2 linked regions of the Homo sapiens genome follow. The protein of the gene in region 1 interacts with the protein of each later gene in a biochemical or structural test. Each region holds a gene or a part of one and is shown on either strand. Other genes may lie near its edges.

Region 1 (7,348 bases):
CCCCGCAGGGGCCGGGCTAGCCAGCTGCTACTCACAGGCTGAGTACAGCTTGCATGGAGATGAAAAGAGCGGGCACATTGAAGGTCTCGAAGAAAACTTCGGCAGCTCGTTCCCGGTTTTTTCGTGGGTTTAAAGGCGCCTCAGTCAGGAGCACAGGATGCTGGTGAAAGGAGCCCGGGAGACAATGAGGCCAAGGCCAGATTTCCATCTTCATTAGTCTTAGGGGAGAAGACCCTGCCTTGCTGGTTTGAGAGCCCGGGGACTTCAGTCAGCCTCACTCCAAAAAAAGGCAAGCTGTGCCTGTCAACTATCCCTGCCCAAGTAGTTTTCTCAACTTTTCAAGTTAATGCCCACTTTAAAATTTCATTCTGTCCTCAGCTGTGCCCCCCAACTCCCCTCCTTGTCCTCCAAGATTGTTATACAGGCCCCTGTGTCTACTGTGTATCTCCAACTGTCAAGAAGATTTTGTGAAACTCTAAATTCCTGCCGCAGACCAGTTCTAGTCTGTGACCTGTTAGGAACCAGGCTGCACAGCAGGAGGTGAATGGCAGGTAAGCGAGCATTATTGTCTGAGCTCCACCTCCCATCAGATCATCCAAGGCACTAGATTCTCATAGGAGTGTGAACCCTACTGTGAACTGCGCATGTGAGGGATCTAGGTTGGGCACTCCTTATGAGAATTGAATGCCTGATGATCAGAGGTGGAACAGCTTCATCCTGAAACTATCTGGCCACCCCAAACCCCCACCCCCATGGAAAAACTGTCTTCCAAGAAACTAGTCCCTGGTGCCAGAAAGGTTGGGGACCACTGCTTTAAAAAAACTGTCTGAAAACAGCCGGGCGTGGTGGCTCACACCTGTAATCCCAGCACCTTGGGAGGCTGAGGCGTGCGGATCATCTGAGGTCGGGAGTTCGAGACCAGCCTGACCAACATGGAGAAACCCCGTCTCTACTAAAAATACAAAATTAGCCGGGCTTGGTGGTGGTGCATGCCTGTAATCCCAGCTACTCAGGAAGGCTCAGGCAGGAGAATCGCTTGAACCTGGGAGGCAGAGGTTGCGGTGAGCCGAGATTGCGCCATTGCACTCTAGCCTAGGCCACAAGAGCGAAACTCCATCTCAAAAAAGCAAACAAAAAAAACCCAAAACTGAAAACATCCCACCTGCACCTGGAAATTGATACACCTAGTCTGCACCTCTCTGCATTTTCTTTCTTTCTTTTTTTTTTTTTGAGACAAGGTCTCACTCTGTCACCAGGCTGCGAGTTCAGTGGTGCGATCTTGGCTTACTGCAACCTCGATGCCCCCAGGCTCAAGCAGTCCTCCCACCTCATCATTTCAAGTAGCTGGGACTACAGGCACGCACCACTGTACCCGGCTATTTTTTTTTTTTTCATATTTTTAGTAGAGGTGGTGTTTCGCCATGCTGCCCAACTTGGTCTCAAACTCCTGAGCTCAAGAGATCCACCCAAAGTGCTGGGATTACAGGCATGACCCACAGTGACCAGCCTCCCTTTACATTTTTGAATGGAGAGTTACTTCCTTACAAGTTAATAAGCACAGGCTGCACAAGGTGGCTCACGCCTGTAATCCCAGCACTTTGAGAGGTGGAGGCGGATAGATTGCCTGAACCCAGGAGTTCGAGACCAGCCTGGGCAACATGGCAAAACCTTGTCTCTACAAAAAATACAAAATTTGCCAGGTGCCATGGCTCATGCTGTAATCCCAGCTACTTGGGAAGCTGAGGCAGGAGAATCATTTGAATCCGGGAGGCAGAGGTTGCAGTGAGCCTAGATCACGCCATTGCACTCCAGCCTGGCCAACAAGAGCAAAACCCCACCACACACACACACACAAAATTAGCCGGGCATGGTGGGGGGTGGGGCTGAGATGGGAGGATTACTTGAGCCCAGGAGGTCGAGGCTGCAGTGAGCTATTGCACTCCAGTCTGGGTGAAAGAAGTTAATGAGCACAGGCTTTGAATTCTAAAAGACATAGGTTTGAATTCCATCTCTACCCTTTGTTCACTTGGTGACCTTGGAAATACCACTTGGCTTTTCTTTTTTTTTTTTTTTTTTGGGACGGAGTCTCACTCTGTCACCCAGGCTGGAGCACAGTGGCGCAATCTCGGCTCACTGCAAGCTCCGCCTCCCGGGTTCACGCCATTCTCCTGCCTCAGCCTCCGGAGTAGCTGGGACTACAGGCGCCCGCCACCACGCCCGGAGAATTTTTTGTATTTTTAGTGGAGACAGGGTTTCACCGTGTTAGCCAGGATGGTCTCGATCTCCTGACCTCGTGATCCACCCGCCTCGGCCTCCCAAAGTGCTGGGATTACAGGTGTGAGCCACCGCGCCCGGCCACGACTTGGCTTTTCTGAACTTGTTCCCTTGTTTGTAAAATGAGATAATACTACCTATATCTCATAGGAATGGTGTTAAGATTAAATCTGAATATGCCTGAAAATCAAATGGCTCCAGCACTCTTGGCAGTGATCATCGTCCTCCTCATCATCTCTAGGGTAGGAGTTTGACACAGCTTTGCATACCCTACAGGAGTGCCCTACACACAGGATCCTCACCTCCTCTGAGAAAGTCTGCAGCTGGTCCTTAGAATAGACATATTGCCAAATGCGTTCCATGTCGTTCCAATCCTTGACGATGCCATGCTCCATGGGATAGCGGATTGAAAGCAGCCCTCGGTGCTCCTGGGAAAAGAGAACAGGACTTACGACTGCAGTCAGGCTCCACCCAGGACCCTGTTCTCCCAAGACTAAGCAGTGCAAGCTGAATCCCTTGCAAAGAAGCCTCAGCTTCCTGAGCTTCCACCCTGCTGTCCTTGCCCAGGGCTAAGGGTGGGCACTCATTCTCCAAGGCTAAATACTGTTTGCTGCAAACTGCCCTCATTCCCGAGGAGCCGGCAAAGCAGGGGCTTCTGCATTTCCATGGCCCCTCAGGTGCCTCTAGGGCAAGTGGCAGGAGGCATCTTCCTCATTGCCTGGTTCCAGGACACAATCTCCTGGCTCCCACCTCTGGGCCTCAGCACTTGAAGCCAAGGATGGCAACAGCGATTCTGCTATCTGCTTACAAGAGGCTGCATGAGGGCTCTGACAAAGCTGTGTGAATTAACTCATCCCTAGGGTACCCCAGCCAGGATCTCCCCACTGAATATTTTTTGTGAAAAAAATAATAAACACAGTAAATTTGATCACTGACAAGGCAGTGACAGGATGCAGAAGACAACAGCCCTGTTTCCTAGACTGGTCTCAGTGTGTCCCAAAGTGAGGTCCCAGGTATTTTCTTCTCCAAGACCACAGGCTGTTCCTGGGAAAAATAAACCACCTAAGCCTAGGATGAGAGAATCAAAAAGGAGATTTTCAGAGAAAGTTGCCCCTTTTACTTATGGGTATGTCCAAATGTTGGGACATGTTCCATGTGGTGAATAATGAAGGTCCTCTGCTGGCTTAAGGCTTGTTCTGTAGGCCTGGGAATTACCTCAGCTTTGGGGCCAATGAAGATGTCGCCTTCAAGGGCTCCTGCCATGACACGAACGTGCTTGGGTCGGCCCACACTAGAAAAGACAGTGAGGAGGACCATCATTTTTCATTTCATGACAGAACACAGGAAGGATGTATAGATGTACATACACACTCAAATTCTACTGAGATTATCTTCAAGGAGTGAAGTCACAGTTGATTTTGATTTTCTTCTTTATACTTTTCTGTATTTTCCACAATTTCTAAAATGAACATGTATTATTTATATATTATTTCATATTTTATATTTATTATAAATTATGAAAACAAATTTTTAGAGTATTTAATACCTCTAGTTCTTCTCTTTCTGCAGTGTATGAACAGACCAAGAAAGATGAGGAAATGAGAATTTCTAAAGGAGTGATTAACTCAAAACATTTTAGTGTCCTTAGTCCCCTTCCCAGGACCTCTAAGTAAAACTGATGCTGGGCTGGGCTCGATGGCTCACACCTATAATCCCAGCACTTTGGGAGGCTGAGGCAGGTGGATCATTTGAGGTCAAGAGTTTGAGACCAGCCTGGCCAACATGGTGAAACCCCATCTCTACTAAAAATACAAACATTAGCTGGGCGTGATGGCACATGCCTATAATCCCAGCTACTTGGGAGGCTGAGGCACGAGAATCGCTTGAACCTGCAAGGCAGGAGTTGCAGTGAGCCGAGATTGCGCCACTGCACTCCAGCCTGGGCTACAGAATGAGACTCCATCTCAGAAAACAAAAAAAACTGTGATGCTATAGATCGGACAGATAGCCTCTTCCTTTCCTCCCCCTTTAAGCCCTTCCTGTAAGCCTCTGTGCTCTTCTCCTGCCTGCAGTCTCTCTGTCTTAGGAGGAAAGTTCTGAGAAACTCCTCATTAAGATGGTAGAAGGGCTGTAATCCCAGCACTTTGGGAGGCCGAGGCAGGCAGACCATGAGGTCAGGAGATCAAGACCATCCTGGCTAATACGGTGAAATCCCATCTCTACTAAAAATACAAAAAAATTAGCCAGGCACGGTGGCAGGCGCCTGTAGTCCCAGCTACTCGGGAGGCTGAGGCAGAATGGTGTGAACCCGGGATGCAGAGCTTGCAGTAAGCCAAGATCACACCACTGCACTCCAGCCTGGGCAACACAGCGAGACTCCGTCTCAAAAAAAAAAAAAAAAAAAAAAAGATGGTAGATGGGTTAAATGTTAATCCCCAGCCTGGGTGATAGGAGAATTTTAAAAGGAGGGCTCCACCAAGAGGCAATCCTCCAAAGCAATAAGTTACCAATGATAAAATTTTTTAGCATCAGATAAAATTGGATTTTTAAAAAGAGGCCTCTTATCTGTGCCTCTCAAATTGTACCATGTAGACAACTGTTTTCCTTTGTTGACTCCAAACTCGGCTCCTGTCCCTTATAGGGCTGGGCCTGTAACAAAGCTGATGAGCCTCCAAAACGTCTAAGCTACAGAATGACTTACTAGTTTGGAAAGCAGTATTTGGGGATCTGATCACCAGCAAAACCAGCTTTAATCACACCGGATCCCTGAGGAAAGAGGAGAGAGAATGAGGAGTCAGAACTATCACAAATACAAAAGGAAAAATACATTATATGGTACCATTTTTATTTAAGAAAAGAAAGCGGCCGGGCGCAGTGGCTCACACTTGTAATCCCAACACTTTGGGAGGCAGAGGCAGGCGGATCACTTGAGGTCAGGAGTTTGAGACCAGCCTAGCCACCATGGTGAAAGCCTGTCTCTAGTAAAAATGCAACAATTAGCTGGGCATGTTGGCAGGCACCTGTAGTTCCAGCTACTTGGGAGGCTGAGGTGGGAGAATCACTTGAATCTGGGAGGCAGAGGTTGCAGTGAGCCAAGATTGTGCCACTGCACTCCAGCCTGGGTGACAGACTCTGTCTCACAGGAAAAAAAAAACAAAACTAATATTTGTATATAATATATACATTTATTTGAACCTAGAAAAAGGTAAATGCACACCAAAAGAAGGGAAGTGGAAATAGGATGGTGAGGAGGATTCTCACTGTATACACAACCGTATGTGTGATTTTTCTGTAGTCTCTGACTTTTCTACATTGAACATGTTTTGCTTTGGGAATTAAAAATACTAGTAATAAAGGGAAGAAAAAGACAGAAAACCTGGGGAAAGAAGAAAGTACCTAGAAGCATCAAAGCAGCCAAGTTCAGGAACATAAGGTAGGAAAAGCACATGACTCCTTGTTACGCCACCCTGGGGTGCTTTTAACCTACTTTCCCAGCTCAGGCCTGAACTCTCCCAGCTTCCAGGGCCTCTGTGACAGACACCGCCATGAGCACTGTCATGCTTGAAATGGACTCCCATGGAACACGTGCTGTCTGGTTCTTATTGCAAGGGCAGAGCACGATGCTTTGGGAGATTTTTGTTGTTGTTTTCTTTTTAACTATGCTTTCCTTTTACTCCTTGGTCTCCTGATGGTAAAGAGAAGCAAAGACTAAAGCCTACTCTGAGAATAGAAGAGAACCACAGTCCTGCTGCTCCAACACTTGGTATGTCGAGTGAGGTGTCCAGAAAAGAATCTGAGTTCTCCCAGCATCTCAGGTACCACCCAGGGCCCAATCAATGTAAACAGTGACTCTGGACACAGAGACCAACCCTGTGCAGGACAGATGTCAAGGCTTAGTATTGCTTGTAGATACACCCTGTCCTCTTCCTTTTTTTTGAGATGGAGTCTCGCTCTGTCGCCCAGGCTGGAGTGCAGTGGTGCAATCTGGGCTCACTGCAAGCTCTGCCTCCCAGGTTCATGCCATTCTCCTGCCTCAGCCTCCTGAGTAGCTGGGACTACAGGTGCCCACCAGCATGCCTGGCTAATTTTTTTTTTTTTTTTTTAGTAGAGACAGGGTTTCACCGTGTTAGCCAGGATGATCTCGATCTCCTGACCTCGTGATCCGCCCGCCTTGGCCTCCCAAAGTGCTGGGATTATAGGCGTGAGCCCACCGTGCCCGGCCTTTTTTTTTTTTTTTTTTTGAGACAGAATCTCGGTCTGTCACCCAGGCTGGAGTGTGGTGGCACAATCTCAGCTCACTGCAACCTCCACCTCCTGGGTTCAAGCGATTCTCCTGCCTCAGCCTCCTGAATAGCTGGGATTACAGGCGCGCACCACCATGCCTGGCTAATTTTTGTATTTTTAGTGGAGATGAGGGTTCACCGTGTTGGTCAGGCTGGTCTCGAACTCCTGACCTTGTGATCCACCTGCCTCGGCCTCCCAAAGTGCTGGGATTACAGGCATGAACCACCGCGCCTGGCCTCTTCTTCCTTCTTAACTCTTCTACCACCACACCTGATACCCTCACCTTTCTAACCCAACATGGTTTGCAGCTGCACCCGTAGCTGGGGCAAGCCTTTTCCTGCTGCCTGTTGACCACTCTCCTGGGGTGGAGTGTGGTATTTACTGACCTCATTCTACAAGCACTGAACACACCTGGAGACTCTAAGTAGCCAAGGTTATCTGCACCAAAGGCTTCCCAGCAACATGCCTGCTTCCCTCCTTGACTCTCTTATTCCTGCTCTTCTGCAGGAAGAGGGGGAGTGAGACTGGCCATCTGGTGCTTGCCTTTGGCAAGACAGAGGTTGGTGGAGGAAGCAAGTGGTTGAAGGAAGCCAGGTGTGGTGGCTCACGCCTGTAATCCCAGCACTGTGGGAGGCCGAAGCGGGGCAGATCACATGAGGCCAGGGAGTTCAAGGCCAGCCTGGCCAACATGGCAAAACACTGTCTTTACTACAAATACAAAAATTAGCCAGGTGTGCTACACGTCTGTAATCCCAGCTACTCAGGGAGGCTGAGGCAGGAGAATCACTTG
Region 2 (7,415 bases), on another chromosome or scaffold:
CCAAACCTGGTTTTCCTGGAGTATTCCTCATCTCAGCAAATAGTAGCTCCATTATTCCAGTTGCACAACTCATCCTTGACTAACCCTTTTTCCTCACCACCACCCCTGTATCTATCCCATCACCACATCTGGTTAATTCTTTCAACCTGTGCACTCCATCTCCACTGCCAGCAACTGAGTTCAAGCTACCATCTTCTCTGTCACCCTACCCACAGTGGTAGCCTCCTAACTGGTTTCTCACACATCTTTGCACCCCTCCATAGCAACTGGAGTAACCTATTCCCCCCATAGCAGCTACAGTGACCTTTTTAAAATACAAAGTTGATCCTATCACTTCCTTATTTCAACCTTTCAATAGTCTCTCAGGGCTCTAAAGGTGAAAATCAAAATTCTTTAAATAATGACATAAAAAGCTCTGCATGATCTAGCCCTTGCCTATCTCCCCAGTCGCAATTCTCTACACATTCCCTCTTCCCCTCTGTTTTCCCTGCACCCTGGTCTTTTCTCCATTTCTTTTGTATTGTTTTTTTTTTTTTTTTTGGTTGGTTGGTTTTTTGAAAAAGAGTCTCACTCTGTCCCCCAGGCTGGAGTGCAGTGGCACAATCTCAGCTCACTGTAGCCTCCGTCTCCTGGGCTCAAGAGATTGTCCTGCCTCAGCCTCCCGAGTAGCTGGGATTACAGGCACTTGCCACCACGCCCGGCTAATTCTTGTATTTTTAGTAGAGATGAGGTTTCACCATGTTGGCCAGGCTAGTCTCGAACTCCTGACCTCAGGTGATCCACCTGCCTCAGCCTCCCAAAGTGCTGGGATTACAGGCGTGAGCCACCGCGCGCAGCCTCTTTTCTCCATTTTTTTTTTTTTTTTTTTTTGAGAGACAGAGTCTTGCTCTGTTGCCCAGGCTGGAGTGTAGTGGAATGATCTCAGCTCACTGCAACCTCTGCCTCCCGGGTTCAAGCAATTCTCCTGCCTCAGCCTCCCGAGTAGCTGGGATTACAGGCGCATGCCACCACGCCCAGCTAATTTTTTTGTATTTTTAGTAGAAAAGGGGTTTCACTGTGTTAGCCAGGATGGTCTCAATCTCCTGACCTTGTGATCCGCTTACTTTGGCCTCCCAAAGTGCTGGGATTACAAAGTCGTGAGCCACTGCACCCGGCCTCTTTTCTCCATTTCCTATGTACACCATGTGTCCTGCAACATCAGGCCTGTTAGCCATATGCTCTGTGGCTAAGAACATGGGTTCAAGGGTCAGATTGGGTTAAAATCCCAGCTCTACCCTTGCCTGGTTTGATGACCCTGAGTAAGGTACTTAATCTCTCAATGTCTCCATTTCCTCATCTGTGAAATGGGGTTAATACTTACCTCTTGGAGTTGTTATAAAGGATTAAATGAAATGTTATGTGTAAAGTATTAGAAATACAGTTCCACGTTAATGTTAGTAACAGCTATTATTATTCCCCACTCTGTCTGGTTAATGCTTCTCATATTTCAGATCTCAGCTCAGGTGATCTGAGGTTATGACTCTGTTCAGTTCTCTCTTAACATCCTGAACTTTTCATTCATAACACTCATTATACTTTGTGGTTATATATCTGATGGGTTATTTTATTAATGTCTGTCAATCCCACCACAGGCTCTTCCAAGAGAAAACAGACAGTATCCATTTTACTCATCATTATATCCCCAGATCCCAGCACAGTGCCTGGTATATAATTAGCCATATAGTTTTTGCATAAATATTTGATTGAGCAGGGGCGAGGAAGTGAAGCCAATGAGTGCAAATGACTCAGGAAGACTGTGAACATAAAGAGCAAGGGGAATGCATGGAGGGAAGTCGGGGCTTCTTGATTATTTTTTAAGCTGGCAAATGCTTGAGCATGTTTAAATGCTGATGGGAAGGAACCAGCTGAGAGACAGCAGTGAGGGCCGTGAGGCTGCAGAAGGGGATGAGACTTAGCATAGGAGCCAGAAGAATCCATCTTAGGTGAAAAGAGGGACACCTCTTCCCTGGTATTGAAACAAGAACTGAGAATTCGGCTATGTATGTATGTTTGGTGGGCAGAGCCAAAACCTTTCCATGAATCTTGGTAATGTAAGCAGCAAATGTGGATTCACTGAGAAGCTCAACAAACTTGGTGGATATCATTCCATTCGCTTTTGCAACTCAAATAAGAAGGAACCAGATATTTTCTTCATCATTGACTGTACTGGTTCACTACAGAGCAAAATAACAAGTTTCCAAAGCAACCCAGTCACAGAGCTGAGATAGGTGATCTCAGTGTTCTCTTTATTCAATGTGCTTCCTCTCCAAATCGGGAAACAGTATGGGAAATAATACGGTAAAATCATAACGGCTGATACTGATTAAGTGCTTACTATGTGCTGCATATAATTCATTTACCTGCAATAATTCATTTGATGTTCCCCACATTATGGTGCCATTTTACATGTAAGGAAACTGAATCCTAGGGAGGTAACTTGCCCAAGGTCACATAGTCAGTGGGTGGCAGAACTATGTTTTAAACCCAAGGAGTCTGACTCCAAAATCAATGCTTTTAACCATTCTGCTATACTCCCTGTCTAGCAGAGAGGAAAGAACATATTAGGATTCAGAAGACCTGGAGTTTCTACCATGAACTAATTCTGTGAACTTGTACATTCACTTAGGTGTCTGAACATCAGTCTGTTCATCAATAGAATAAGAATGAGAATGTTTATCTTACAAGGCTTCTTGAAGGATTATGAAATGCTGAAAATAGGAAATTATAAAAGATATTATTTTGCTAATCATAAGACTTAATACCCTTGACTTCTAATTGGGTCACGATATTATAGGCTGTCATTGAGACCCTTAGTTCCCGTAACCAGTACAGCAGCAGCAGCTTGGTGGTTCCAGTTCCTTTGGCAGGGCAGCTGATTCTCTAATTTTTTTTTTTTTTTTTGGAGATGGAGTCTCGTTCTTGTTGCCCAGGCTGAAGTGCAGTGGCACAATCTCAGCTCACTGCAACCTCTGCCTCCCGGGTTCAAGCGATTCTCCTGCCTCAGCCTCCTGAGTAGCTGGGATTTCATGCCCACCACCACGCCTGGCTAATTTGTGTATTTTTAGTAGAGAAGGGGTTTCACCATGTTGGCCAGGCTGGTCTTGAACTCCTGACCTCGCGATCCACCTGCCTCGGCCTCCCAAAGTGCTGGGATTACAAGGGTGAGCCACTGCGCCTGGCCATGGGCAGCTGATTCTCATCCCATCAGCTTTAATGTCCCTGACCAAGTGTCCCTGATGACCGTCATGCACAGGTTGGTGCCTCCTTCCCCCGAACCAACCAACACATAATCCTACCTCTGGGAAGAGTTGCAGTTTATGCCCTTGTTTCTTTAATGCCATTGCCTGAAAGAGTGGCTATTAAAAATAATAAATAGCCTCAGGCCTGGCACGGCAGCTCACGTCTGTAATCCCAGCACTTTGGGAGGCTGAGGCAGGCAGATCACCTGAGGTCAGGAGTTCAAGAACAGCCTGGCCAACATGGCAAAACTCTGACTCTACTAAAGATACAAAAATTAGTCGGGCATGGTGGCATGCACCTGTAATCCCAGCTACTCGGGAGGCTGAGGCAGGAAAATTGCTTGAACCCGGGAAGAGGAGGTTGCAGTGAGCCGAGATCAAGCCACTGTACTCCAGCCTGGGTGACAGAGCACGACTCCGTCTCAAAATAATAATAATAATAAATAGCCTCAAATGCAGCTAACTGTGAGGTACACACCAGAGAGCCAGTTCCAGTTTCGTGGTAGAAGCACAGATATCAGAGCTAGGAGAGAACTTCAAAGTAATCTTTCAATGGAACTCCCCAACCCTCCTCCCAACCCATTTTATAGACTAGGAAAACCAAGGCGAGGTAGATGACACCACTAGTTAGGGTTGTCAAAACCATATCTGGAAAGTACTTCAATTGCACATATTTGTTTCAGTATGCATACCTTTTCAGAAAGGAGCAAAATCCTAAATTACCCATAAATCTATTATAAAACCTTAAATCCAATAATTCACTCAAAGCCCATTCTTTGAGTGCCCTTACTTGACCATTTCAGGCATTCCCTGGATAGAAACGGGCCCTCATCTTCAGGGGCAGTACATAACCTAACGGCTCTGTACAAAGCTCACCCTGTTACCACTGGCTCATCTCTGAGCTGAGTTCTCTAATCTGGAAGAACAGCACCTACTTCTCAGAGCTGGAGTGGGGGTGGGAGTGTCACATGAGATGATGCGCTTTTAGCACCCACCTGGCACTCTGTGAGTTTGTCATGATTTGGGCATAATTCCTTCCTCTCCTAAGCAGGCAGCAGTTCACCTTGGTTAAGGACCTTGGACCTTAGACCACTCAGACGCTAACAAACCAAGGAGAAACCCAGCCGTGTCAGGCCTAGAAATGTCTGCCCCCACCCCCACCCCCCTCAAGACGGTGACTAGGCCGGAATTCTCCTGGTTGATAAATGAGAGGAGCTGAGAAGCGCTGAGATGCCTGTTTGGAGCATCTGATCTGTAGAAGACGAATCTTCACTGTGCCATGGAGATGTTCTGGGAGGGAGAGCCGGCCCAGCTGCCTGAAGGAGGACGCGAGAGCGAGGGGACGGGTGAGAGGAATGCTTAGCGGAGACGGACTGGAGGTGCCCGGAGAGGAAAGGGGAACGGAGGCTGGATCTCGGGAAACCTCGTCGGCAGTGTCATTAGAGGAAGGATCGCGTGTCTCGGGGATACGGATTTTGGAGGAAAAGCAGAATAGGGACAAAGGTGAGGTGTCCGAACCGGGGAGATCAAGACCTGTAAGCTGTGGTGGGGGACCCAGGGACCAGCGAGGACGGGAAGGCGGGGTTTTGGGGGGACCCCGCACGGAAGGTGGCTGGGGGTCGGCAGCCGGCCTCGGAGCTGCTGCCGCGTTCGCCCCGAGGCAGGTCAACTACCCCGGGCGGGGAGCGGCGGGGAGCACCGAGAGGGGCCTCGGTTGCCATGGCGCTGGGCGGGGAAGGGGCGACTCGGGCCCCGCCCAGAGCCCCGCGGGGCCGCCGGCTCCAGATGGTCCCGGGCCTCCCGCGGGAGCCGGCGGCCTGCGGCAGGGGGAGGCTATTGTCCTCCTTCCGCGGCGCCGCAGTCCCGCCGCTCGCGCCCGCGCGCCGCCGCCACGCGCCCCGCCGCCGCCCGCCCCGCGCGCCCCCCGCGCCGCCTGCGCCCCGTGACAGCGCCCGCCCGCCGCCCGCCGTGCGCCCGGCCGCTGCCTGCAACCGCCCGTCGCGGCCGGGCTGCAGGCGCGGCAACTACCGGTGCGCCCCCGCCCGCCGCGCCCCCGCCCGCCCGGCCGCGGCTCCGCGCCGAGGTAGGTGCCGGCGCCCCGCCCGCTTTGTCCCGGCCCGCGGGGCGGCGCGCTTTGTCCGGCCGCGTGCGGTCGGCGGGGTCGGGGTCGGGGTCGGGGTCGGGTCCCGGCGGCCGGGGTGAGCCGGGGCGGGAGCAGGCGGGGACGGGACGGAGAGGGTCCCGTGCCAGCCACACAGGTACCGGGATGAGGGCGGTGGGGGCCAAGGCCGAGGGGGGGGGACTCGGGCCTCTCTGGAGCCGGGAGAAGAGTCTGGAACAGTTAGGGCTGACGGACACGTTCGCGGCGAGGCTGGGAGCGGGTCTGACAGCGCCGGCCCCTCGCGTCGCCGGGGCTGCGGGGCGGACGGGCCGGCGCCGGGCCAGGTGCTGGGGGCGCGCTCGGCCGCCTCTGCCCGGCGGACTGCGGGAGCCGGGCTCCCTCCTCCCCGGAGCCGCGTGGGCTCCTCCTCGCCTCTTTGGCAGCTGGCTCCACGCGCTCCCTTCTGTTCCCCCACAGTGTGTGGGAGAGGGGCACGCGGTTGGCTGTGGTGGCCGGAACTGGCCCGGGGAGAAAGCAGACGCTTCGGGCGGCGGGGAAGCGGCCGCGTGCGGCGTTTCTGTGGCCAGGAAGCTGATAGGGCTGTGCGGTCCGCCCCGCACGGAACTACCCAGCAAGGCCTGCTCGCGGGGGTGTTCCGGCTCCGGTGCCACAGTCGTGATTTACCTTCCACTCGCTTGGAACTTTACCCCATTGACCCCAGGACATTGCATGCTTGTGTGAGGTGCAGGTTTGCCCCGGTCTTAACCTGCTACATGTCGTCTGCCCTCCCCCTCTCGGAGCAGCCACAGTTCCAACGCTGGAGAGCCCGGGGGTTTCAGGTATGGGCAGAGGTAGCAACAAACCAGTTTTCCTTGAAGGTGAAGAGGGGCAGAGTGAGTTCCAAATATGTGTCTTAGCTTGAGGTGTGGGGCAACCTCTTGGCTTATTCAGAAAGGCAAAGGATTGGCCGAGGAGAAGATAGGATGGAGTTTACATTCTTCCCTTAGAGAAATTGATGTGACCCCGGGTTGGGGAAGGGAGATAGCAAGGGAGTGAAGAATCTGAATATTTGAATAAATCTGCCATAACTGGAGGATTCTAGAAGAGAAAATAAAATTTCAGTCCCCCTCTTCAGCCCAGTTCCTAACTTCCTCCGAGGGAATTGATCAGGAACACAGTCTGAGAGGTGGGTCGGGGTTTTGCTGTTCCTTCCTTCTGCCCTGGGCCCATCTTTCTCTTGCCTTCCTGGAGGCCCTGAGCTGATTTGTGACTTCTTTTTCGTTTTATCTCTCTGCCAGTCCACCCATTTATACTTAGAAGCAAATAAGATTTGAACTTTGCCAAAGTCCCCATTTCTTCTAATCTATTATTCATCTCACTGTCATTTGTTCAACTCTGCCTTCCCGTGACTTCTCTAGCTCTGCCGTTCTCCTCCCGCATATCTGCGGTTCGCTGTGCTGTTTCTTTCATTACCTGTGGTACCTACTCCATCTTCATCTTCCTCTCCCATCGCCTGAGCTCCTGAGGGGAAGTGATATTTGAGTTTAGTGTGGGGTAGGGCCTGAGCAGACCTAGAAGCTAACCCTGGGTCACACTCACCCCTGAAACTTTGTGTCTTCTCAACACTCATGGCTCCTCTAACCAATTCCAGCTGCTTCTCATCTTTGGACAAGGGTGGCCCTCAAAGTGTGGTCCCCAGACCATTAGCTTCAGTGTCACCCGGGAACAGGTTAGAAATGCACATTCCCAGGTACCACCCCAGAAGTACTGAATCGTAAACTGGGGGATGGGGGGGTGACCTGTGATTTAACAGTCCTCCAGGTTGTTGTGATTCATGGAAGTTTGAGAATCCCCAGACCTGAGCTGTTGAGCTCAACCCTGAAAGTATTCCAGCCCAGGAGCAGGTCTTCTCCAATCCCGTGTTCATTCTTTCCTTGAGCTTCTCTCTAGTCCTAAGAAAGACATTAATTCCATGGCCAAAAAAAATGAATTATAGTCAAGTCATTCAATATCTCTTTATTGAATATCTGTTGTAC

The links.
Region 2: the proteins of ACTR1A (region 1) and SPTBN2 form a complex in vitro, tested with the Homo sapiens proteins (2 studies listed by BioGRID).

What each region holds. Positions count from the first base shown.
Region 1 is NC_000010.11:102,485,574-102,492,921, forward strand, and holds part of ACTR1A (alpha-centractin), read right to left. Parts: intron 5,041-7,348; coding exon 4,976-5,040; intron 3,566-4,975; coding exon 3,490-3,565; intron 2,703-3,489; coding exon 2,577-2,702; intron 161-2,576; coding exon 36-160; intron 1-35. UniProt on the Homo sapiens protein: Part of the ACTR1A/ACTB filament around which the dynactin complex is built. The dynactin multiprotein complex activates the molecular motor dynein for ultra-processive transport along microtubules.
Region 2 is NC_000011.10:66,726,107-66,733,521, reverse strand, and holds the start of SPTBN2 (spectrin beta chain, non-erythrocytic 2), read left to right. Parts: upstream 1-4,305; 5' UTR 4,306-4,781; intron 4,782-5,246; exon of another isoform or gene 5,247-5,361; intron 5,362-5,378; exon of another isoform or gene 5,379-5,536; intron 5,537-6,089; exon of another isoform or gene 6,090-6,218; intron 6,219-6,236; exon of another isoform or gene 6,237-7,415. UniProt on the Homo sapiens protein: Probably plays an important role in neuronal membrane skeleton.